Linked DNA regions of Homo sapiens. The protein of the gene in region 5 purifies or fractionates together with the protein of the main gene of each other region. This does not show direct contact. Each region holds a gene or a part of one and is shown on either strand. Other genes may lie near its edges.

What was found.
Region 1: the proteins of KLK12 (region 5) and TUBA8 purify together in Homo sapiens (affinity purification with mass spectrometry; one large-scale study listed by BioGRID and IntAct). This does not show direct contact.
Region 2: the proteins of KLK12 (region 5) and TRO purify together in Homo sapiens (affinity purification with mass spectrometry; one large-scale study listed by BioGRID and IntAct). This does not show direct contact.
Region 3: the proteins of KLK12 (region 5) and MAP1A purify together in Homo sapiens (affinity purification with mass spectrometry; one large-scale study listed by BioGRID and IntAct). This does not show direct contact.
Region 4: the proteins of KLK12 (region 5) and ATP7A purify together in Homo sapiens (affinity purification with mass spectrometry; one large-scale study listed by BioGRID and IntAct). This does not show direct contact.

The regions. Positions count from the first base shown.
Region 1 is NC_000022.11:18,108,913-18,114,134, reverse strand, and holds the start of TUBA8 (tubulin alpha-8 chain), read right to left. Parts: upstream 3,327-5,222; 5' UTR 3,270-3,326; coding exon 3,267-3,269; intron 1-3,266.
Region 2 is NC_000023.11:54,926,841-54,931,357, forward strand, and holds part of TRO (trophinin), read left to right. Parts: intron 1-202; coding exon 203-265; intron 266-464; exon of another isoform or gene 465-595; intron 596-826; coding exon 827-941; intron 942-1,762; coding exon 1,763-4,180; 3' UTR 4,181-4,191; intron 4,192-4,363; coding exon of another isoform or gene 4,364-4,498; 3' UTR 4,499-4,517. UniProt on the Homo sapiens protein: Could be involved with bystin and tastin in a cell adhesion molecule complex that mediates an initial attachment of the blastocyst to uterine epithelial cells at the time of the embryo implantation. Directly responsible for homophilic cell adhesion.
Region 3 is NC_000015.10:43,527,085-43,530,353, reverse strand, and holds part of MAP1A (microtubule-associated protein 1A), read right to left. Parts: coding exon 846-3,269; intron 705-845; coding exon 484-704; intron 286-483; coding exon 130-285; 3' UTR 1-129. UniProt on the Homo sapiens protein: Structural protein involved in the filamentous cross-bridging between microtubules and other skeletal elements.
Region 4 is NC_000023.11:78,043,068-78,047,584, reverse strand, and holds part of ATP7A (copper-transporting ATPase 1), read right to left. Parts: intron 4,269-4,517; coding exon 4,151-4,268; intron 2,116-4,150; coding exon 2,013-2,115; intron 1,292-2,012; coding exon 1,015-1,291; 3' UTR 1-1,014. UniProt on the Homo sapiens protein: ATP-driven copper (Cu(+)) ion pump that plays an important role in intracellular copper ion homeostasis.
Region 5 is NC_000019.10:51,031,543-51,036,830, forward strand, and holds the start of KLK12 (kallikrein-12 isoform 2 precursor), read right to left. Parts: upstream 3,461-5,288; 5' UTR 3,264-3,460; exon of another isoform or gene 3,253-3,263; intron 3,099-3,252; 5' UTR 3,080-3,098; coding exon 3,043-3,079; exon of another isoform or gene 2,883-3,042; intron 2,598-2,882; coding exon 2,438-2,597; intron 594-2,437; coding exon 334-593; intron 1-333.

The DNA.
Region 1 (5,222 bases), on a different chromosome or scaffold from region 5:
AACCACAAAGGCCACAGATAGTGCTGTCCGTCCCTTGCGGCTTGAGGGAAAAGGAGCATTTGGTCTGCTTCCTCCCCCCGACAGTGCCACATCCTCCTGCCCACCCCCATCACTGGCCCGCTATCCACCAGCTATTTCCCCCACCAAAATTATTTTTAACTTTCATCTCCCTTTGAAGGTCACTAGGAGAAAGCACATTCAACAGTGGCATTAACCCCCACCCCAAGCTCTGTATGGGCCTGACCCAAGGCTGGGGGCTCCCAATGGACTCACCAATCCAGCAGCTCTGCCCCAGCCGCTGCCCTGTGAGCCAAGGCCCCTCACTCGGAGGCATGCGCCCAGTGCTTCTCGGGAAACCTGCCTTTTGTGATGGGAGGGGAGGAGGAGGCAGCAGTGACCTGCAGCCCCTGGGAGCCCACACAGTGCTCTGAGGTCAGAATACACCTATCAACTCCACAGAGCTTGGCCATGCCTGTCTACATGGGGAGACTGCAGAAGGCTGCAGGCAGAAGGGTGTCCATTTGGCCCCCAGAACCCTCTAACTGCCCATTTTTGCAGGGAGACGGGCTCCTTCGTGCTCTCCAGTCCTAACGGAATGGAGTTAAAGAAGCCGTGTTGCAGATGTTCCCACCTCCCCATAAACCACAGAAAACTTCTCTGTGCCCTGGTATCATTGGCATGGGCTTGGCTTAGGGCACCTGGCCAGGATTCTCCATACCACTTCCCAAAAAAGGTGTCATAGTCTGAGTTCCCAGAGAGCTGCGTGCTAGAACACTGGGAATGGATGGGAATGGTCTGCTGTGGGAGTAGCCTGCCGGTCCCAGCACGGGCAGGTGGCTCAGGACAGAGGCTCTGGTGCCCAGCAGATGTAAACTCCAGCCCCTACGCAGCTTCTTACCAGCTGTGTCACTTTAGGCTCCAGGACAGAAATGCTAAAGGGTATTGGTGGTACCGTGCAGTGGGTAGCTGGGGAGAAGGGGTTGGGGGTAAGTTCACAGAGGAAAAATGCTCATCTGCCTAGCAGCTAGAGAAATGCATTTAAAAATACACTTAAGGATTAGTTACACTTTTCTTGCCCAGAGCCTACAGAAATTCCAAATCGAATTCTCCTTAACACCAAGGTCACCTCCCCCAAACCCCCACCAGGGAGGGAAGTGAAGGGGACAGGACAGCAGCCTGAAACTTAATCCTTAGAAGAAATACAGTCATTTTTGTAAGGGTGAGATTCTAGGGGTCTAGGTTTATAGATGTGTCATTTTAGCCTTTTACAAATGAGCCAAATGATATTTTAAAAGTTTCTGTGAGTGTAAAATGTTCAACAAAAAATATTAGCCATCAAGACAGTGCAACGCACACAAGTTAAATGTTCTAGATAGAACCTACTAGACAAAATTGAGTGTTTCAAAATAAATGAAAGGTGGTCGCATTTCAAAATATTTAACCATAGGTTTTCAGCTAAACACCCAAATTCTTAAGCACGTTCAAAATAAAGTTTTGCTGTTTGAATTGTTGATTTACCAGGCATTGTCAGAAACACGTCTGTGGATCACACATTCAAGCTTGTGCACAGGGCTGGGTTAAGATCCTCGACACGCCCCTGTAAACATCCTCTGGGCTCCACTCTGTACCACAATGGCATTCAGATCCAAATTAAAGCATGCAAGGGAAGCACTTGGAAAATCCTAAAACACTAGCTACCTGCTAGATATTATAAATATTAAATATCAATTCTAGAGTATGCAGCCTAGCATTTGCTTCAAAATTATGGAGGGAGGGAATAAATGAAGTGAGACAGGTCAGAAGTTGGTAATTATTGAACTTAGATGATGTATATAATCGCTAATTATACCATTTGCTCTCCGTTTGCATATGTTTGAAATTCCCTACCATAAAAAGTTTAAAAATAATGAAATCTAAGTGGAGTCTTGGAAATTTGAATTATAACCCTCTTCATTTCGCAGGTAAAACAAACACATCCAGAGAGGTTAAGTGACCTTCCTGAAGTCACACAGCTAGCTGCAGAGCCAGGAGTCAAAATTCTGAACTGGCAGCTCCGGGCCCTTTGTGTGGCCTCATACCAGGGTCCTCAGGCAGAAATAGGTTCCTGTGGCCACCCTCCCTAATATTCCCAAGTTCTTTCAGTTCCCAGGGGTGTCTGGGAGCCCGCTAGGAGGAGGGAGGGTGCTGACAAAACTGAAGCTGGAAGGCTAGAGCTCCGGGGGAGCCAGGAGGCCCTGGGCACGGGCCAAACGTAACAGGGCGGGGCGGAGGGGGTTCTCGCCTGCTTTCTGGATCACTGACACCTGGAGCAAGCCTGCCCAGGGAACCCGACCTTGGCCATGACATAGGCTTATTCTGCCCTCACTCTGCCCCCAATCTTTCCAGCCCATCTCCCTACTGCTGAAAGATCAGGGGTCCAGGAGGGATTCCTGGGATTCTGGGCTTTGGGAAAGTGGACTGGGGGCAAATGTTAACCACCAGGGGCACTGGGGGCGGAGAGGGGGACCCTAGAAAGAGGAACTGAGTGTTTGCAGCCGCCCCTCAGTAAGATCCAGGGGCGGGGGCAGGGAAGGGAGCAGCCGCGATCCCCCTAAGCCAGGGTAGGAAACAGGTCGAAGGTCCCCTGGCCTTTGGAAGCAGAGACTTCTTACTCCCAAAGTCCTTCGACTCTGACCGCTGGAAAGACTTGGGAGCTGCTGAGTGCGCCCGGAGGACCCCGCCGCGCTGGGGCTGTGCGTGCAGCAAACCCAAGCCGCTGGCCAGGCTTGCGAGAAAGACCTCCACGCGTGGGGGGACCGTGGCGCCCTAGGTCCTCTGTCACATTCCGGGCCCTGTCACATTAGGCTGGGTTCGGAGACGTGACTGCATCTGGCCCCCCAGTCGCCCCGGCCCAGACCACCCATCCAGAATCCCCGGACTCGCCCTTCTCTCCACTCTGTCCACAGGCTGCCCATCTGGGGACCCCAGAATCTCGCCCCCTTCTCCGTCGGGCTCCCCAGGGCCTCCCTCCCCCTCGTCTGCACGCAAAGCTCCCTTAGGTCCCTTTAAGGAACAACTGGCCCCTGGTCTCTATTTCCCCCATACGATAAAGGGCACCGGGTGTTCCCGCCCGAGGGTGCGGACTCCTCGACCCTGAACTGCCACCCCCAGAAGGCCTTGAGCCCTGCGGCTCCAGGAAGACGGGTCCGTGCGCCTCCGCGTAGACTCGGCTCTCGGTCCTACGCCTGCCGCGCGCCCGCAGCCCGCCTGGCCCCGGGAAGCCTCACCATCGCTGCCGCTGTCCTCGCCCGCGCACCTCTCAGCTGGGCCTGCCCGCCCCGACTGCTCCAGATACAGCCGCCTCCGCCGTTGTGACACACCGGGAGGGGGGGACGCCGGGGACAGGCGCGCCGGGCCCGCAGCTGCCCCCCGGCATCACAGTGCCGGGGAGGGGCGGGCAGGTCACAAAGGCCCCTCCCCGCCCACCCGCGGCTCAAATCTCCGGGTCCTCGGTCCCGCCTCAGCAGCCGGGGGCGCTCGCAGCGGGGACTGCGCCCGCGGGGGAGGCTGCCCTATTACCAAAGCGCACGTGTCCACGTTCCAACACCGCCGGCGAGAGCAGCCTTCGTGACCCCAGCTGCCGGAGAAAGAAATGTAAAATGCAGCCAGGCGAATCGCGCGGGTCTCCCCAAACTTCCGTTCTCCTCCGACCCGCTGGAAAGGCTCCTGACTGGGGTGCAGCTGACCGGAGCGGGCTGCAGCGGGCCCGGGTGCCAAGGTGCCGTCTCAGCTGGGCGCCCTAGGGCCGTGTGTGCTTGGCAAGCTGCAGGGCCTCTGCTCCCAAAGCCTGTGCCTCCTGCCGCCAAGGCCCGCCTGGTTGCTGGAGACGGAAATGAGATGGCATACACAGAGCTCCTGGTACAGGCAGGTGCTGAAGACTGTTCCCGTTTTTACCCTCTCCCCGGATACCTCGCACCTCCACCGGGATTTTCAAATCTCCCCCCTTGATCCCTTCCTACTTTTAAGCCCCAAACGTGTCCAAGTCACATCTCCTATGTAATCCAGAACTCATACCAGGGTTCCCCTGCCTCTGCCCAGTAGTAAGACCCGCCAGATGCTGTTGGTTGCCCCCTGCTCGGGAAGGGGTGGGCACTTGGTAAAAGCCCCTCTTCACACTTTAGATGTTGGCCACGTTGTCACCCTGCCCATCTCCCCTCACTTCCCCCCAGGTGGGTGAGGGGCTGGATGGTCTTTGTTCCTTGTTCTCACTGCTGTTTCTTGTTCTTTCCCTCCAGTGGTCAGTTCCATTCATGTTGAAAGGTGTACCCCAGCCTCTCTCTTCCACTTTCCTCAGCACCAAGCCAACGCAGGCAAATTCATAGGTTTTCCTTAAGACAATACCACTTTAGCCAGACGTGGTAACTCCCCAAGTTTCCAAGCACAGTTAGAGATCTTCCTACCCTTCTGCTCCTAAGACATGCCTGCTTGTGGCCAATAGAGAATGAGAGCAGATTTCTGCTTACCTATGCGGCAATCTGTTCTGTTGGCCACCCATTCATAAACGATAGTACATGTGTCGTAATCATCTTTGCATTTGAGAGAGTACCAAACACAGTGCTTTACCCACTGATACAAACGGTACTTAGTAAAGCATGCGTTGAATTTTTGTCTATCTTATAATGTAAGATCCTGACAATTAAGACTCAGGATTAAGCTAATTGTGCCAAGCACATGATAAATGGTCAATAAAGGATTTTGGTTATTAGTATAACTCTATGTGTATTTCTCTTCCAAACTCTCCCATAGCATATTCTATTACTTCTTCCATAGCATTTCTTTTATTTTTTATTTTTTTTGATGGAGTCTTGCTCTGTCGCCCAGGCTGGAGTGCGGTGGTGTGATCTAGGCTCACTGCAACCTCCGCCTCCCGGGTTCAAGTGATTCTCCTGCCTCAGCCTCCCGAGTAGCTGGGACTACAGGCGCGTGCCACCACGCTCGGCTAATTTTTTGTATTTTTAGTAGAGACGGGGTTTCACCGTGTTACCCAGGATGGTCTCAATCTCCTGACCTTGTGATCCACCCATCTTGGCCTCCCAAAGTGCTGGGATTACAGGCGTGAGCCATCGCGCCCAGCCCCATAGTATTTATCACTTTCTTTTTCTTTTTTTTTTTTTTTTGAGACAAAGTCTCGCTCTGTTGCCCAGGCTGGAGTGCAGTGGTGCGATCTGAGCTCACTGCAACCT
Region 2 (4,517 bases), on a different chromosome or scaffold from region 5:
TGTTAGATAGACCTTCAGGGATCCCTGACAAAGAGGCATCTGGTCTTAACTGCTTGCTTCTAGTGGCCATGTGCTCATTACTTTCTTCACTTCATTGAGACTGCCCCATGTGCTAGAGAGGTCTCTTCCATGTTGGGAAATGCCTCTGCCCTCATCTGGGCAGTTCTGATCTGTGTTCATGGGTTATTTTTCCCATTGTCAGGGTGAGGCATTCACTCTTTGGGGAAGTGAGGAAGCTCATCACAGACGAGTTTGTGAAGCAGAAGTAAGTGGTGTTTGGGGCTTTGTCTGGCCCTGAAGTGTTCTGGGTATACTGATCTGGTTCAGAAAGTGCTTAGTCAGTGCCTTTCTTATACTAGCTTTAGAGGGATGGGCATCCTGTGTCCTAGAACTGATACTGTCTAAAATTCCCATGGGCAGACCTTTCCAGGACTGGGCCAGACTCAACACAAGGCCCTTGCAGTGGGGTGCGCTCAGAGCAGAGGGCCTTAAGAATGGCTCCTCTGTTTACAACACACCCAACAGGAATCTGGGCTTACTCCTCACAGGTGGCATGATACTTTGGCCTTCCTGTGACATCATGCCCTATACATGTCTCCCCTGGAGAAGCCCAAGGGACTGCTTTGCACAGGGCCAGTGGGAAATGGCTCAGTATTGGAGGCCAAGACCATAAACTGTGTTTGGTAGTGAGTCTGGGGCTGGAGGGTCTTAGAAATCCCTCTCCAGGGGCTGTTTGTATTTGTTTGGAGGAGGTTGCCACCTGGTGTCTAGTGCTTAGACAGCAGGGTTGCTTGGTTAGAAACAAGTTTCATTTCCTTTTTCCAAGGTACCTGGAGTACAAGAGGGTCCCTAACAGCAGACCACCTGAATATGAGTTCTTCTGGGGCTTGCGCTCCTACCACGAGACTAGCAAGATGAAAGTCCTCAAGTTTGCATGCAGGGTAAGAGGAGAGCTGCCCGAGCTTGGCATATTAAGGCAATGGGATACCCTTGGCTGGGGCAGGCAATGCACAGGGATGGGCAGGTACAGAGCAGCCTGCAGCTCATATATAAACATGTGGAGCCTCCTTTATGTCCCAGGGTGCTGCTAGATATATAGTTTACATCATCTCATTCATTCTTCATACTTTGTATTAATCAGCATGGGCTGCCATAACAAAATACCATAGACTGGGTGGATTAAAAAACAAATTTATTTTCTCATAGTTCTTGAGGGCGAGAATCCTAGGTCAGGGTCCACGAGGGTCAGTTCCTGTTGAAGGCTCTCTTCCTGGCTTGCAGATGGCTGCCTTCTTGCTGTGTCCTCACATGGCTTTGTGTGTGAGAGAGAAGAGAGCAAGCTTTCTGGTGTCTCTTCTTATAAGGACACTAATCCTGTTGATCAGGACCCCACCCTTATGGCCTCATTTAACCTTAATTATCTCCATAAAGGCCCTATCTCCAAGTACAATCACACTGGGTGTTAGGGATTCAACATACGAATTTGGGGGCGGGCACAACCCTTCAGTTCATAACATATTTACGCTCTATCATTTCCTGTAATTATAAAGACACTTAGGCTAAGTGAGGTTAAGTAACTTGTCCAAGGTCATATAGCACGTAAGTCAGCAGAGCTGAAACTGGAGTTCAGAACTGACCCATGATAGAGCCCCAATAACTGAGAAGTTTAAAAAAGTATTGCTACTAGTTTAATACAAAGCCCGTAGGTTAATACATGATTACTAGGGTTGTTTTCTTATTATGATTATCATCCCCATTTCAGGTGCAGAAGAAAGACCCCAAGGACTGGGCTGTGCAGTACCGCGAGGCAGTGGAGATGGAAGTCCAAGCTGCAGCTGTGGCTGTGGCTGAGGCTGAAGCCAGGGCTGAGGCAAGAGCCCAAATGGGGATTGGAGAGGAAGCTGTGGCTGGGCCCTGGAATTGGGATGACATGGATATCGACTGCCTAACAAGGGAAGAGTTAGGCGATGATGCTCAGGCCTGGAGCAGATTTTCATTTGAAATTGAGGCCAGAGCCCAAGAAAATGCAGATGCCAGCACCAACGTCAACTTCAGCAGAGGAGCTAGTACCAGGGCTGGCTTCAGCGATGGTGCTAGTATTAGCTTCAATGGTGCACCCAGCTCCAGTGGTGGCTTCAGTGGTGGACCTGGCATTACCTTTGGTGTTGCACCCAGCACCAGTGCCAGCTTCAGCAATACAGCCAGCATTAGCTTTGGTGGTACACTGAGCACTAGCTCCAGCTTCAGCAGCGCAGCCAGCATTAGCTTTGGTTGTGCACACAGCACCAGCACTAGTTTCAGCAGTGAAGCCAGCATTAGCTTTGGTGGCATGCCTTGTACCAGTGCCAGCTTTAGTGGTGGAGTCAGCTCTAGTTTTAGTGGCCCACTCAGCACCAGTGCCACTTTCAGTGGTGGAGCCAGCTCTGGCTTTGGAGGCACACTCAGCACCACGGCTGGCTTTAGTGGTGTACTCAGCACTAGCACCAGCTTTGGCAGTGCACCCACAACGAGCACAGTCTTCAGTAGTGCGCTTAGCACCAGCACTGGCTTTGGAGGCATACTCAGCACCAGTGTCTGTTTTGGTGGCTCTCCCAGCTCCAGTGGTAGCTTTGGTGGTACACTCAGTACCAGTATCTGCTTCGGTGGCTCTCCCTGCACCAGCACTGGCTTTGGAGGCACACTTAGCACCAGTGTCTCCTTTGGTGGCTCTTCCAGCACCAGTGCCAATTTTGGTGGTACACTAAGTACCAGCATCTGCTTTGATGGCTCTCCCAGCACTGGTGCTGGCTTTGGTGGTGCTCTCAACACCAGTGCCAGCTTTGGCAGTGTGCTCAACACCAGTACTGGTTTTGGTGGTGCTATGAGCACCAGTGCTGACTTTGGCGGTACACTAAGCACCAGTGTCTGCTTTGGTGGCTCTCCTGGCACCAGTGTCAGCTTTGGCAGTGCACTCAACACCAATGCTGGTTATGGTGGTGCTGTCAGCACCAACACTGACTTTGGTGGTACACTAAGCACCAGCGTCTGTTTTGGTGGCTCTCCCAGCACCAGTGCTGGCTTTGGTGGTGCACTCAACACCAATGCCAGCTTTGGCTGTGCCGTCAGCACCAGTGCCAGCTTCAGTGGTGCTGTCAGCACCAGTGCTTGCTTCAGTGGTGCACCAATCACCAACCCTGGCTTTGGCGGTGCATTTAGCACCAGTGCTGGCTTCGGTGGGGCACTTAGTACCGCTGCTGACTTCGGTGGTACTCCCAGCAACAGCATTGGCTTTGGTGCTGCTCCCAGCACCAGTGTCAGCTTTGGTGGTGCTCATGGCACCAGCCTCTGTTTTGGTGGAGCTCCCAGCACCAGCCTCTGCTTTGGCAGTGCATCTAATACTAACCTATGCTTTGGTGGCCCTCCTAGCACCAGTGCCTGCTTTAGTGGTGCTACCAGCCCTAGTTTTTGTGATGGACCCAGCACCAGTACCGGTTTCAGCTTTGGCAATGGGTTAAGCACCAATGCTGGATTTGGTGGTGGACTGAACACCAGTGCTGGCTTTGGTGGTGGCCTAGGCACCAGTGCTGGCTTCAGTGGTGGCCTAAGCACAAGTTCTGGCTTTGATGGTGGGCTAGGTACCAGCGCTGGCTTCGGTGGAGGACCAGGCACCAGCACTGGTTTTGGTGGTGGACTGGGCACCAGTGCTGGCTTCAGTGGCGGACTGGGCACCAGTGCTGGCTTTGGTGGTGGACTGGTCACTAGTGATGGCTTTGGTGGTGGACTGGGCACCAATGCTAGTTTCGGCAGCACACTTGGCACCAGTGCTGGCTTTAGTGGTGGCCTCAGCACCAGCGATGGCTTTGGCAGTAGGCCTAATGCCAGCTTCGACAGAGGACTGAGTACCATCATTGGCTTTGGCAGTGGTTCCAACACCAGCACTGGCTTTACTGGCGAACCCAGCACCAGCACGGGCTTCAGTAGTGGACCCAGTTCTATTGTTGGCTTCAGCGGTGGACCAAGCACTGGTGTTGGCTTCTGCAGTGGACCAAGCACCAGTGGCTTCAGCGGTGGACCGAGCACAGGAGCTGGCTTCGGCGGTGGACCAAACACTGGTGCTGGCTTTGGTGGTGGACCGAGCACCAGTGCTGGCTTTGGCAGTGGAGCCGCCAGTCTTGGTGCCTGTGGCTTCTCGTATGGCTAGTGAGGTTTCAGGTAACTGCAATATTTCCATAGCCAGGACCCACAGGGATGGGTACAAGAGCTGGGAGATGTTGTAAGAAACACTAAGGCAGGACAGCAGGGTGGAAAGGTGAGGGCAATTAAGGAATTATGAGAAGACAGTGTATTTGGTGCTAAAATGTGTTCCTATTTGTTTTGTTTTCAGATTTATTCCCCATGTTTACAGATACCGCTAATAAATTGCAGTAGTCCTTCCCATGGAGCCAAAGTACATCCTTGGAATCTTTGTCCACACAGCAGTCAAGGCAGTTATGGCCAATCAGCTGAGGGTGTCATGTGATGGAAAAATCTGTTTGCTG
Region 3 (3,269 bases), on a different chromosome or scaffold from region 5:
GTCCCCACAACAAGACATCTCCCTCCCCTCCCCCTAGCTCCCATCTCCCTCAACCCCAAAGGACTCAGCAGTAGCCATTCTCTAAAGGAGCTGGGGGAGTGGATCCTTGGGGAAGGGAGGGCGGCTCTTTCAGAACTCAATCTTGCAGGCAGGGAAGGACTCATCCTGCATCACCACGGTGCTGCTGCTAGCCAGGACCAGGACATTCAGTTGTTGCTGCTGCTCATGAGTTTGTTGGTACCACTCACGAGTCACCTCCGTGTCATGAGTAGGGATCAGAGTCACCTAGAAGGGAGATAAGATATGTCTGATGTGAGAACATAAAGGGAAGGTAGGTGAGGGGGAAGGGGCACCTCATGGTCTCAGAAGCAGCTCTGCTGCCCTTAGAAAAGGCCCATCCTTTAATAAATAGGGACTGTGTTCCACTACTGCCTCTGAGTGAGCGTTGACCAGACTACTTCCTTGGTGTCCTTTGCTACTCACCTGAAGATTCTCCCCCCACTGGGCCTTGCCCTCCAGCAGGGCATCCAGCACAGCCCGGCTTGGCTCGCCATTGGCAGGGTCATTCCCACTGACCACATAGTAGGATGCACGCACTCGACGGAAGAAGTCAAGGTCAGCAGTCTTGCCACTGCAATGATTCGGGATGTAGGCGAGATCCACATATACAGGGGCACCAGAGCTGCCCTTGGAACTCAAGGCCACTGTAGAGACAAGCCAGGATTCATTGTAGAGGAAAAGTAGAACCCTTTTGGCAACCTTCCCCTCTGTCCCACTCCTGAAGTCTGACCAGCCCACACCCAGCCCTAACCCACACTCTCTGCCAAGTTTCATGATATACTTACTTGGTCCTGCCTTGAGTCCATTGACTAGGCCTTTGGACATGGGGCTGTGTCCATCCTTTTCCTCTGCTGGGGTGACCTGGCTTGTGGTGCTGCGTGGTCGAGGTGGGGCCCGGGATGCTCGATCTGCAGGCCCTTTACCAGGGGTGGGTGAGCGTTTTCCCCGAAGATCCAGACGCCGTGCAGGGGACGCTGGCTTGGCCTTGCCTGGGGCCCTGCGCCCTACTCGCCCCTGAACCTTTTCCTTCTCCCGTAGCCTCTCTACTCTCCCAGACTCTGAGCTGAGCCCCTCGGGGTCAGCCATGCACACATCAGGGCGGGGAGGGGATGGGCGGGGGTCTGGCTGTGGGAGAGGAGGTGGGTCATGGCCAGGCCTGGGGTGGTGAGTACCACTGACACCCCCAGCTTTGTCCACAGGTAGGAAGTCTCCATCTTCATCTGAGTCGAGGGCTGCCTCAGCTGTGATGGACGGACACTCCTCAGTTTCTGGCGGGACATCAGAATCTGACTGTGAGGAGCCTGAGTCACTGGCTGATGTAGGGGGTGTCTCATCAGTCACAGGGCATGGGCCCCCAGTGGTCCCTGGCCCCCCTACCCGGCGCCGCCCCCCTCTTCCTACTAGCCGAACTTCCTCAGTTGAGAGGTCCCTATCATCTATGGATGGGGGCAGAGGTGGGTTCAGGAAGGATGGGGAGAGCTCCCCACGATGGGGCCGAGGCTCAGTGGCACATCCCTGGGGCCCAGCTTCGACCTCAGGAGAGGCACTGCTGGGTGGGCCCCCGGAGCCCCCTGCAGGACACACTGGCTGCTCAGGGGAGAGCAATGTGTCAGGCCGGGAGCTCCTCTCAGCTCCTTCAGGCCAGGCCCCACGTTCCCAGGCAGGGCAAGCCGCAGCCTCTTCATTTTCAGCCTTGGCTGGGGCAGGGCCTGGGGGGTTAGGGCTGGTTTCAGTTGGGCCATTGGCTGCACAATCCTCAGAGGGAACCTGGAAGGGGCTTGGCTTCTCCGTGGCTGCCTCTGAGCACTCCAGGTGGCACGGCAGGATGCCATCACCCATGTCTCCAGGCAGGCTTGGAGCTGGAGCTAGGGCCAAGTCCAGTGAAGCTGGGGGTGCTGGGCTCAGAGGAGTGAGGTCCCAGAGGCTGTGGGCAGCTGGTTCCATTCCTGGGTCCAGCTCTCCAGACTCCTGTTCTGCAGCCTCAAGGCTTGGAGAGAAGCGCTCCGCCACACTTGAAATCACAGGCGTGGTAGCCTCAGAGGAGGAGCCCTCAGACAGGGCTGGTGAGGCAGGTCGTGGCAGATTGGAGAGGAGAGGGGCCCCAGGAGAACTGGGTGATGGGAGCTGGGGCAGTGAGGAATCCAGGCTGGGGGCCTTGGTCACTTCCAGGTATTCATCATGCCGGGTTCTGGTGGGGGGTCCTGGAGCCAGAGCCAGAGCTCGATCCCCAGAGAAGGCAAGGGAGCCACAGGGTGCCGAGCGGGGTTCAGCTGGAGAGGGCAGCTGTGGGGGAGCTGGCTGCAATGAGGAGAAGCCAAAGGCTGAAGCAGGGAAGTCCAGACTGGGTCGGGCAGGCCCCAGGTGTGAGTCCAAGGGAGGGCTAACATGTGCCTCAGTTTCTGGCCATAATGTGGGGGACCCCATAGGAATGGGGTGAGGAGGACTTGGGGATTGGGCCTCTTTTTCTGGCTGTTCCCGAGCCCCCTTCTCCAGTTCTGAGTCACTAGTGCTGTCATCCCAGTGACTCCGGCCTGATTCCTTGGGGGATGGGGACCTCCTATCTGGGCTGCAGCTCAGGATGTTACCATTAAGAGGGGGGCTTGGGCCTTTGCTCAGGATAGGAGCACGGGGGGGAACTGCAGGTGGGGTGAGGCTGGGCTCCATACTTGGCCCTGGCTCTGGCCTTGGGGGTACAGTGGGTCCTGCCAGGGCTGCATAGCTGAAGGTTGGAGTGTCAGACTGGAGGCTCTTGGGTGAGATAGGAGATGAAAGCTCCTTCTCTGCAGATGTGTTTCGGCCGGCAGCTGCCTCCTTGGTTGAGAGGCATGGGGGCCAATCCCCAGCTGCTCCAAGTGGAGGCTCTCTAGTGGGGCATGCAGGGCCAAGCCCAGTAAGCATCATCTGCTCATAGATGTCTGCATACTGAAAGCTTCTCTCATCAGGATAGGGTGTGGGCTCTCTCTGCTCCGGCTCAGTCTGCTCAGGCTCCGTGGTGGCATGGCTTTTGCTGGCCTCTGGTACCTTTGAGCTGTGTGAGCTTTTGTCAGGAGCCTCAGCCCTACCTTCTTCTTCCCTTTCCCCTTCAGCCTTGCGGTAGTCCTTCCCCAGGGGGGAGTATGGCCCACCTTCCAACTCAGCTGCCCCCTCCTGCACTGCAGCCACCACACTGTCATACTCGGCTGTGCCCCAAGAGAAGGGTGCAGGAGTAT
Region 4 (4,517 bases), on a different chromosome or scaffold from region 5:
CAACAACAACAACAACAACAACAACAACAAACAAATTTAGTGAATCCAGGTAATTTTATATGACCTGTATATGTATAATAGTTTTAATCTTTGAAAATTTTTTGAGCAGAAAAGGCTCATAATGTTAAGTTTCCAGACTGAGATCAGCAGACTACATGAAGAATAACTTAGAGTCCAACTTGGCAGGAGTGAACTGAAACTGAGCACAGAGCTAGGAAACTTGAAGGAATAATTTGATATACTTTTTACAACAGTGGAAAGATGGGAGGCAGGGAACCCTACAGACCTTTAAGGTCTTTTGAGCTACAAAATTTAAAAAGGAGCAAAATATTAGAACAGTTGTCAGTTATTTTTAATCAATGAAAAACCACCTAAACTTGGTTAGCTCGAAAGAAAATAACAAAAGAAGACATATTGGAGCATCTAAAAAAGCACCTGCAAGGACAAGGATGCAGGGAGAATGGGGGAAAGAAAGCCTGCAATAAATAAGGCACATCTATTTTTAAACAGTTTCAACTGTTTCCCTTCTAAAACTAGATGTTTTATACACAGTGCTTTGAAAGTCATTGCTCCCCAGTGGGGCAGGGATACAGGCTTGAGAGTATCTTCAATATTTTGAGTTCAAAAGCATGAATATCTTCATGCTCTCAAATCTTCAAATTTTTCATTTTCTTCTTCTTGGGCCTTTTTTTTTTTGGTCAAATAAAAAAAAAATCACTTTAGCAGCAGTTCAGCAATCTCTAATTGTAGGGCTTGTTGTAAACCTCACTGCTCTACCTTATCTGTTGTTAGTGAAAACAAAAATATACTGGAAATTCAGTTTAAATAAAGCTAGGTTCAGAGCTGATGCCTTGAAAAAGATATTTTTGCCAACAGATAAACGCAACTCAAATAGAATCCCTAATATAAGAGCATGAGAAAAATCCTTCTACAATATTTTGAAAAGTGAAGGTAACATCATGAATGCTGTGTCAGTGCATGACAAGTTAAACTGGCAGCACTCTCCATGGCCTTTTATAATGCAGTGTCATCATCTTCCCTGAAGTCTCCCACCAGGAGTGAGTGCTTGTCAGGTTCACTGGTAACAACACTGTTTAGGGAGCGTTTATCAGACAGTAGTGAGTTTATAGAGGCTCTGCTATAATTAACAATCCGGTCCAGCAAACCCAGTTTAGGAGAATTCCTTGAGGTATCATCTATTCCAACATGAACGCTGATTTCTGAAGGACTCTTCTGTCCTATCTGGCTCCGGGCAGGCAGTTCATAACTCTCGTAAGTTGGTTTCCTGTAACTGGACATATGCAAAAGTATGCTAGTTTCAAATAACCAAAAGTAAATGAGATGCTCGCTACATGCAGAAAAGAAAGAAGATTTGCTCATCCACACTTAGTTTTGGTATGAAATGTATAAAGGTGATCACTGGTAGGAAAATAGCTTGAAACGAATTGTGTGGAGTTATATCATCAGAAACCCTACTTCTCAGAATTAGTGCACTATATTTTATCCCACTCAGTGCTTGTGGTTGCTATGCATAAAGTACACGAAGTAACAATTACATAGCTAATTATTACTGTTAGCTAATAATAATTCTTTTCTTTTTTTGAGATGGAATCTCACTCTGTTGCCTAGGCTGGAGTGCAGTGGCACGATCTCAGCTCACTGCAACCTCCACCTCCCAGGTTCAAGTGATTCTCCTGCCTCAGCCTCCCGAGTAGCTGAGATTACAGGTGTCTACCACCATGCCCAGCTAATTTTTGTATTTCTAGTAGACATAGGGTTTCACCATATTGGCCAGACTGGTCTCAAATTACTGACCTCAGGTGATCTGCCCACCTCGGCCTCCCAAAGTGCTGGGATTACAGGTGTGAGCCACCACGCCCGGCCGCTAATAATAATTCTCATTAAGAATGGTTTGGGCTTATCATTGATCAATACAAGAATAAAACCTACCAAGAATGACTAGATGATAACAGGAATACAAAATACAAATGTGAGCAAGCTATCATACTTACAGTTTAAGGAAGAGAGAAGAAAGTACTACAGAAACAGATGAAGCAGCCATTGCTGCAGATCCCATCCAGGGCTGCAAAACCAAACCAATGGGCATAAAAACTCCTAAGAAACAAGTATGGATTAGTTAGAGTAGATAATACTAAACAGATTATTAATGTGTTTCTAACATACATACAAATCATTTCTTTGTTTGATACTTCTTCAGCATTTATCCTCTTGGTGGTAGAGATTTTTGTTGTTGCCATTTTTTTCACTAACAGAGTGTTGCTGTTAACATTCTTGTACATGTCTCCCCGTGTCCATGTTTGAGAGTTTCTGTGGGGTATATACCTAGGGGTGAAACTACTGGGTCATAACATGGGCACATCTTCAACTTTACGTGGATATTCCTCAGCTGTTCTCCAAAGTGGCTGTAGTGATTCAAAATCCAACCAATAGCGTATGGGAGTTCATGTTCTACAAACTCATCCACACTTGGTTTTCACAGACATAAGAATGTTTGCTCACATGATGAGGATGAAATAGACTCATACTTTTAACTTTTTATGTGCTTCTTTATATTTTTCTACTTTTTCTATGGTGATCATATATTACTTGTATAATTATTTAAAAATCACTTGCTCCATGAATTAATCTTACTGGACTTAGATTGTTCTTTTGTTCTTTGTTCTCTCAGTATTTGTGTGTCCTTGCTGATAAACAGTTTTGTAATTGTTCTCATGTCATTTCTTGTCTTTCCTTGGCCCTCAAACCAGAGAGAACAAGAAGAAAACAATACTTATTTCTTTTATGTCATCATTACTAACTCCTACCAGGTCCCTAAGTTTAGGAGATTCTCAGATGCTTATTAAATAACTCTAAATTCTTTTTTCTCAGTTATATTGCTTTGTTCACTCTCTCTGTCATCTGGTCTCTCAACCTAAAAAAAATACCAGCTGACTATAATAGAATATTAAGTGAAGAGCAGAAAATTCTCCATAAGCTACAATCACAACTATGTAACAAGACAAAAACTGATGTAGAGTAAAAAAAAGACTAGAGGAAAATACTTGTATAATTCTTTAAAAATCATTTGCTCCATGAATTAATCTTGCAAACAGTGTTGGGTTTGGGTAGTCAGATTAAAGGTAAATCTATTTAGAAAAAAATTAATAAGCAAACAAATACATATCTCTGTGCAAATATATGCAGAAAGAGATGAAGCAATGTGGCAAAATACCATCAGTTGGTGAGTTTAGGTGAAAGGCATACAGATTTTTATTGTACCATTTTTTTCAATGTTTTTGGAGGTATGAATTTTTTTTTTTTTTTTTTTTGGAGACGGAGTTTCGCTCTTGTTGCCCAGGCTGAAGTGCGATGGCGCGATCTTGGCTCACCACAACCTCCACCTCTTGGGTTCAAGCGAGTCTACTGCCTCCGTCTCCCGAGTAGCTGGGATTACATGCATGTGCCACCACGCCCGGCTAATTTTGTATTTTTAGTAGAGACGGGGTTTCTCCATGTTGGTCAGGCTGGTCTTGAACTCCCAACCTCAGGTGATCCGCCCACCTCAGCCTCCCAAAGTGCTGGGATTACAGGTGTCAAGTTTGAAATTTTTCAAAATACAAAGTTGAAGGCTGGGAGTGGTGGCTCACAGCTGTAATCCCAACACTTTGGGAGGCCGAGGTGGGTGGATTACCTGAAGTCAGGAGTTCGAGACCAGCCTGGCCAACATGGAGAAACCCCGTCTATACTAAAAATACAAAAATTAGTTGGGCGTTGTGGCGGGCACCTATAGTCCCAGTTACTCAGGAGGCTGAGGCAGGAGAACTGCTTGAACCCAGGAGATGGAGGCTGCAGTGAGCCGAGATTGTATGACTGCACTCCAGCCTGGGCAACAGAGTGAGACTCTGTCTCAAAAAAAAAAAAAAAAAAGTTGGAGGGAAAAAAATAAATCTGTCAGAATGCTTATATATTCTTAAGCTATAACAAACATTACTGAAAATTAAAATGATTGATTTTAACATTACCTCTCACCATACCAGTAGGCTACAAACAAAAACTAAGCTCAAAACTAATAGTAAGAAGACAGGCTTCCAATATGTTAGGTCTCTAATAACTTTAGTGGAAAAAGCAGTACTAGTTAAGAGTCACATACCAGCAGCTATGGGAATTCCAACCAGATTATAAATTAGAGCAAAGACAAAATTTATCCGAATCCTCTTGACTGTCTTTCTTGATAAGTCAATACTTGCCACTACATCCAGAAGATCATTCTAAGAACAGAAATATTTGTGATATTAGTAAGAGACTCTAACTTAACCAGTAACTTTTACATTTGATACTGTGTATGTTGAAGATTACGTCTACCTTAGGGTAATATGTGAATTAATTACAAATCTCAGATAATGCTAAAACTTAGACTCAGCTTCCGAAGGTGTTTTTCAAAAATTTTCCTCAGGGTTCTGAAAACACTTTTAGGGGTGTATGCTGGTACTATGATTAAATCTACTTAAAATAATCTC
Region 5 (5,288 bases):
GGTGACCTCTAACCCCAGACCCATGACCCACAATGCCCATATCCTATACATACATATATATATATATATGCCTTTTGCTCCAGTGTGATGACCTCTGACACACTCTGACCTCTGACCTCTGATCCCTGACTTCATACCCAGTCCTTTAACCCCTTTGGCTCCCAAGACCCCAATCCACCATAATCTCTGACCCCAAACCATGATCCTGATGTCCCATCCCACACCCTGACCCTTTACCCATCCTTCCTCTGAGGTGTCATGATTCGACCTCTCGCCCTGCATCCCAGACTTGTACCCATCCTGACCCCTGACCCCTGGCCCTGGGCCCCTTACTCCGTGGGTGGTTGGTGATGCCCCAGCCTGAGACGTGGCACTCGGTGCCAGCGGTTGCACAGTCATTGGGCAGGGGCAGGGGTTGAACGCTGCTGGTTACGCGGACGGGCAGGCGCAGCCGCAGCAGCCGGAGGTCGTGCTCGTGGCTCGTCGAGGCTCCCAGGTAGCCGGGATGGGTCACAGAGAAGCCGCTGTGCCGGATCTGCTCGGTCCAGTCGAGCTGGCTGAGGCTGTGTTCCCCCAGGCGCACCCAGTACCTGCTGCCGGTGGCGACGGCTGAGCGGGTGGCAGGCACGCAGTCCCCCACCTTGCACCCCTCCACGGACACTCAGGCGCTCCTGCCGCTCCCCACTGTTCTGCCCCTCACTGTCTGTCCTCTCACCCGCAACTCTCATTCTCCGAGTCTCTCTTACAGGCTCTTATTCCCAACCTCCATCACCCTCTTTCCATCTTGGGTGTTCCCTGTTTCTCCTACCATGTCCCTGCATCTGTGTCTCTCTCTCTCCTTTTTTTTTTTTTTTTTTTTTTCAAGACCGAGTCTCGCTCTGTCGCCCAGGCTGGAGTGCAGTGGCACCATCTTGGCTCACTACAACCTCCACCTCCCAGGTTCAAGCAATTCACCTGCCTCAGCCTCCCAAGTAGCTGGGATTACAGAAGCATGCCACCATGCCCAGCTAATTTTTGTATTTTTAGTAGAGATAAGGTTTCACCATGTGTGTCAGGCTGGTCTCAAACTCCTGACCTCAAGTGATCCGCCCGCCTCGGCCTCCCAAAGTGCTGGGATTACAGGTGTGAGCCACCGCGCCAGGCCTCTCTTTCTGATTCTCTCGGCTGGTGAAGCCCATGAAGGCAGGGACATCAGTGGACCTTGTTCACTGCCTTATTCCCACCGCCTGGCACGGAGCATGTGCCCTCCATGCTCATGCGTGGACGAGTGGGTTCATGATTGAACGAGTGGGTTGATGAATGGCCTCTCTGCATCCTGCTGCTGGCCCTCTCTCTCCCTGAGTCTCTGTTTCTTTGCATCTGATCTCCCCTTTCACAAAAAAAGTTCCAGGCCAGGCACAGTGGCTCATGCCTGTAATCCCAGCACTTTGGGAGGTCAAGGCAGGAAGATTGCTTGAGCTGAGGAGTTTGAGACCAGCCTGGGTAACATAGCAAAACCCTGTCTCTACAAAAAAAATTTAAAAATTAGCCAGGTGTGGTGGCGCAGGCCTGTAGTCTTAGCTCCTTGGGAGGCTGAGGTGTGAGGATCACTTGAGCCCAGGTGGTTGAGGCTGTAGTGAGCCAAGATAGCATCACTGCACTCCAGCTTGGATGACAGAAAGAGCAAGACTCTGTCTCCAAAAAAAAAAAAAAAGAAAGAAAAAGAAAAAAATTCCAGAACATCAGTCTACTGAGGCCCAGAGAGGTGCCAGGCATAGATTCTGAAGTTGCACAAAGAGTTTGGGTCATGTTGGCCGGGTGCAGTGGCTCACACCTGTAATCCCAGCACTTTGGGAGGCCAAGACGGGCAGGTCATTTGAGGCCAGGAGTTCGAGACCAGCCTGGCCAACATGGCAAAACCCTGTCTCTACAAAAAATACAAAAATTAGCTGGGCATGGTGGCGGGTGCCTGTAATCCCAGCTACTCAGGAGGCTGGGGCAGGAGAATCACTTGAACCTGGGAGGCAGAGACAGCAGTGAGCTGTGATCACGCCATTGCACAGCAGCCTGGGCGACAGAGCGAGACCCTGTCTCAAAAAAATAAAAAAAAGAAAAAGAAAAAGAGCTTGGGTGAGACCTGGGCCCCGGGCCCAGACTGGGTCAAGGAATGGCTGGGGTGAGTGGCAGATGTCATATAGGAAAGAAAGGGTACATGCAGGAATGGGAGAGGCAGGAGGGCAGGTTCCAGGACCCTCCCCGGCCCTCCACCCAACATACCTCACCCTGCCCAGCACCACCCCAGGCCCACTGCTAAGGAAGTTCCACTCCTGGTCTAACCTCAGACTCTCTTGTTGCAGGATCAGCTTCTTCCCAGTGGGCACCACCCTCCCTTGTGATCCTACCCCCAGCGCTTGCCTTCCCATAGTCCTCCCTTCGCCCACCCCAGGAAGGGACTTACCTGCCGCTGCAGTGAGCCGCTGTGAGGACCCACCTGTGGTCAATAAGGACACCCCCGCAGCGCAGGCTGGTGCCCTCAAACAGCCCCACCTGCCACGGCTGTGAGTTACGCCCACACTCAGTGCCATTGAAAATCTTCGGTGTGGCTGCCTGGCTGAGCCCTGGAGACAGACAGGGGCATGGGTCAGAGAGAGGAAGAAAAGATACAGAGATGGAGAGACACACAGAGTGAGAGAGAGAAACAGGCAGGAGAGAGAGAGGAGAAAGAGAGACGAGAAAGAGAGAGAAAGAGAGAGAGACCCAGTGATAGAAAAAGACCATGAAACATCAAAGACACCCAGGGAGAAAGATGCTTACACATAGGAGGGAAATGGAGAGACAGAGATTCAGAGAGGGACAGAAGGGAAGAGGGATCAAAAAATAGGGGAGACCGAGGTGAGCAGTACCCTGAGAGCTGCAGGTAAATGGAGGCACAGAGAAAGCCCCTCTCCTCCTCACCACCAGGCTGGGGGCCAGAGCTGAGATGGGGAGGGTGGTGGGGCCTCCTCATGGGGGTGAAGGGATCCAGTCGCAGTCCTGCCCTCTCCCTGCTCCGGGAGAACTCACCAAGAACACACAGGAGCAAAAAGATGCTGAGCCCCATGGTGGGTCACTTCCAAAGTCTGGGGGAAAAGGGGAATCTCAGAGGTCACCCTTTCCCTGTGCCCCCCACCTCTGCCCTCTCTGCTTCTCTTTGAAGGTCACCAAGGGGATGACCTGCTTGTCCTCTCTCTACCTGCTCCCCTGTGTGTCACTCCCTCATTGGCAGTCGCCTACCTCCTTCTCACCTTGTCTCTTTGTCTGCCAGATCCTCTACGTGGCTGTCACTGTTTGGCCTGTCCTCGTCGCTGCTATCTCTCCGTCCACCTACCTGCCTGTCTTCTCATGTGCTGGCCACTCCGCCAGCCAACTCTACCACTCTGCACCTGGCTCCTCAGCCACCTGTCATGTTGCTCAACCGGTCCCTTTCCTTCCATCTGTCGCTCCAGACAGACCACTGACAAAGCTCTTAACTCTCTTTGTCCTGGCCCATCCAGTTTCCGGGTTAAGGGAAGGGGACCACGAAGACAGGGGTGGGGCGTGCTCTAATTCTGCAGAAACTCTTCTCAGCTAATCACACTTAATTGAGCTTTACAGCTAAACGGAGTGGGGAAGGAGGAAAGGACCCAGGGTGGGAAGACCCAGCCCCACTCCCTCTCTCCTCTGCAAGCCCGTCAGCAGCCCCAGGACTGATGACTCAAGGTGACTAGGGAGCTGGGTTCTAATCCTGACTCCAGTGACAAAGGAGGGTGGGGAGACCTTGGACACCTGGGGCCCATCCCCATGCAGTGCAGGGGAGGGGCAGGGGGAAGGAGAGGCTGTGAAAGCAGGAGAGTGGACGGGAGGGGCAGGAAGCCCAAGCTAGAAAGAGTCCCAGAAAGAGAAGAAGAGTTGAAGGAACAGACTTCCAAATAGGTGATCAGGCAGGGGTAGAAGAGAGTTTCTGAACTGAGTTCATATATGTACATATGAAGTGGATCAATCTAATTCCATAAAGTTTTTCTTTGCTAAGAACTTCTATTGCTTAAATAAAACCCACAGAGAGAAAAAAAAAAGACACAGGGAAGGAGAAATGGTAGAAAGAGAGAGAGAGAATGAGTCACAGGACAAGGGAACTTTGTGCTGTTTTTTGTTTTTCGTTTTGAGATGGAGTCTCGCTCTGTCACCCAGGCTGGAGTGCAGGGCTGTGATCTCCGCTCACTGCAACCTCCACCTCTTGAGTACCTGGGATTACAGGCACGTGCCACCATGTCCGGCTAATTTTTGTATTTTTAGTAGAGACGGGGTTTCACCATGTGGGCCAGGCTGGTCTTGAACTCCTGGCCTCAAGCAACCTGCCTGCCTTGGCTTCCCAAAGTGCCGGGATTACAGGTGTGAGCCACCATACCTGGCCTCTGTGCTGGTTTATCTGAGTTTTTGCTTCATCTAGGAGGAATGGAAGGAGAGAAAGAAGGAGAGAGAGAGGGGACAGAGAGAGAAAATGAGAACAAAAAGGGAATTCGGCTCAGAGGAAGGGGGATTGAGAAACAAACCAAGAGAAAAGCAGTCAGGGCCAGGCGCGGTGGCTCACGCCTGTAATCCCAACACTTTGGGAGGCCGAGGCGGGCAAGTCACTTGACGCCAGGAGTTCAAGACCAGCCTGGTCAATATGGTGAAACCCCATCTCTACTAAAAATACAAAAATTAGCTGAGTGTGGTGGTGCATGCCTGTAATCCCAGCTGCTCGGGAGGCTGAGGCAGGAGAATCCCTTGAACGTGGGAGGCGGAGCTTGCAGTGAGCCGAGATTGTGCCACCGCACTCCAGCCTGGGCGGCAGAGCAAGACTCCATCTCAAAAAAAAAAAAAAAAAAAAGAAAGAAAAAGAAAAAAAAGAAAAGCGGTCAGACAGAGCGCACAAACAAACAAAAAAACCCAGAACAAAACAGAGGAGAGCAAACTCCCACCCTATGACTGTCTTTTAGTCCTTCACTTTCTCTCTGGGTCTCCAGTCTCTGTCCGTGTCTCATTTTCAGAATCACAGAACCTTAGCTTTTGATTTGCTCTTAGAAACGACCTAACTGCTTTAACTCATCATTGGTCAGCGCGACTGGCGTTGATAACGCTGGTCCCTACAAAGCCTCCTGCTGGCTGTTAAGAGCTTTCCTTCTTTGGGCAGAGAGGATAAAAAAGCACCATGACTGTCCTTTCTCTGGAAAGGACACACGTCACACGCTCACAGCACAAAAACGCCACTTCTTCCTTTTTCTGGTGTCAAGTTTTACAATAAACCTCAA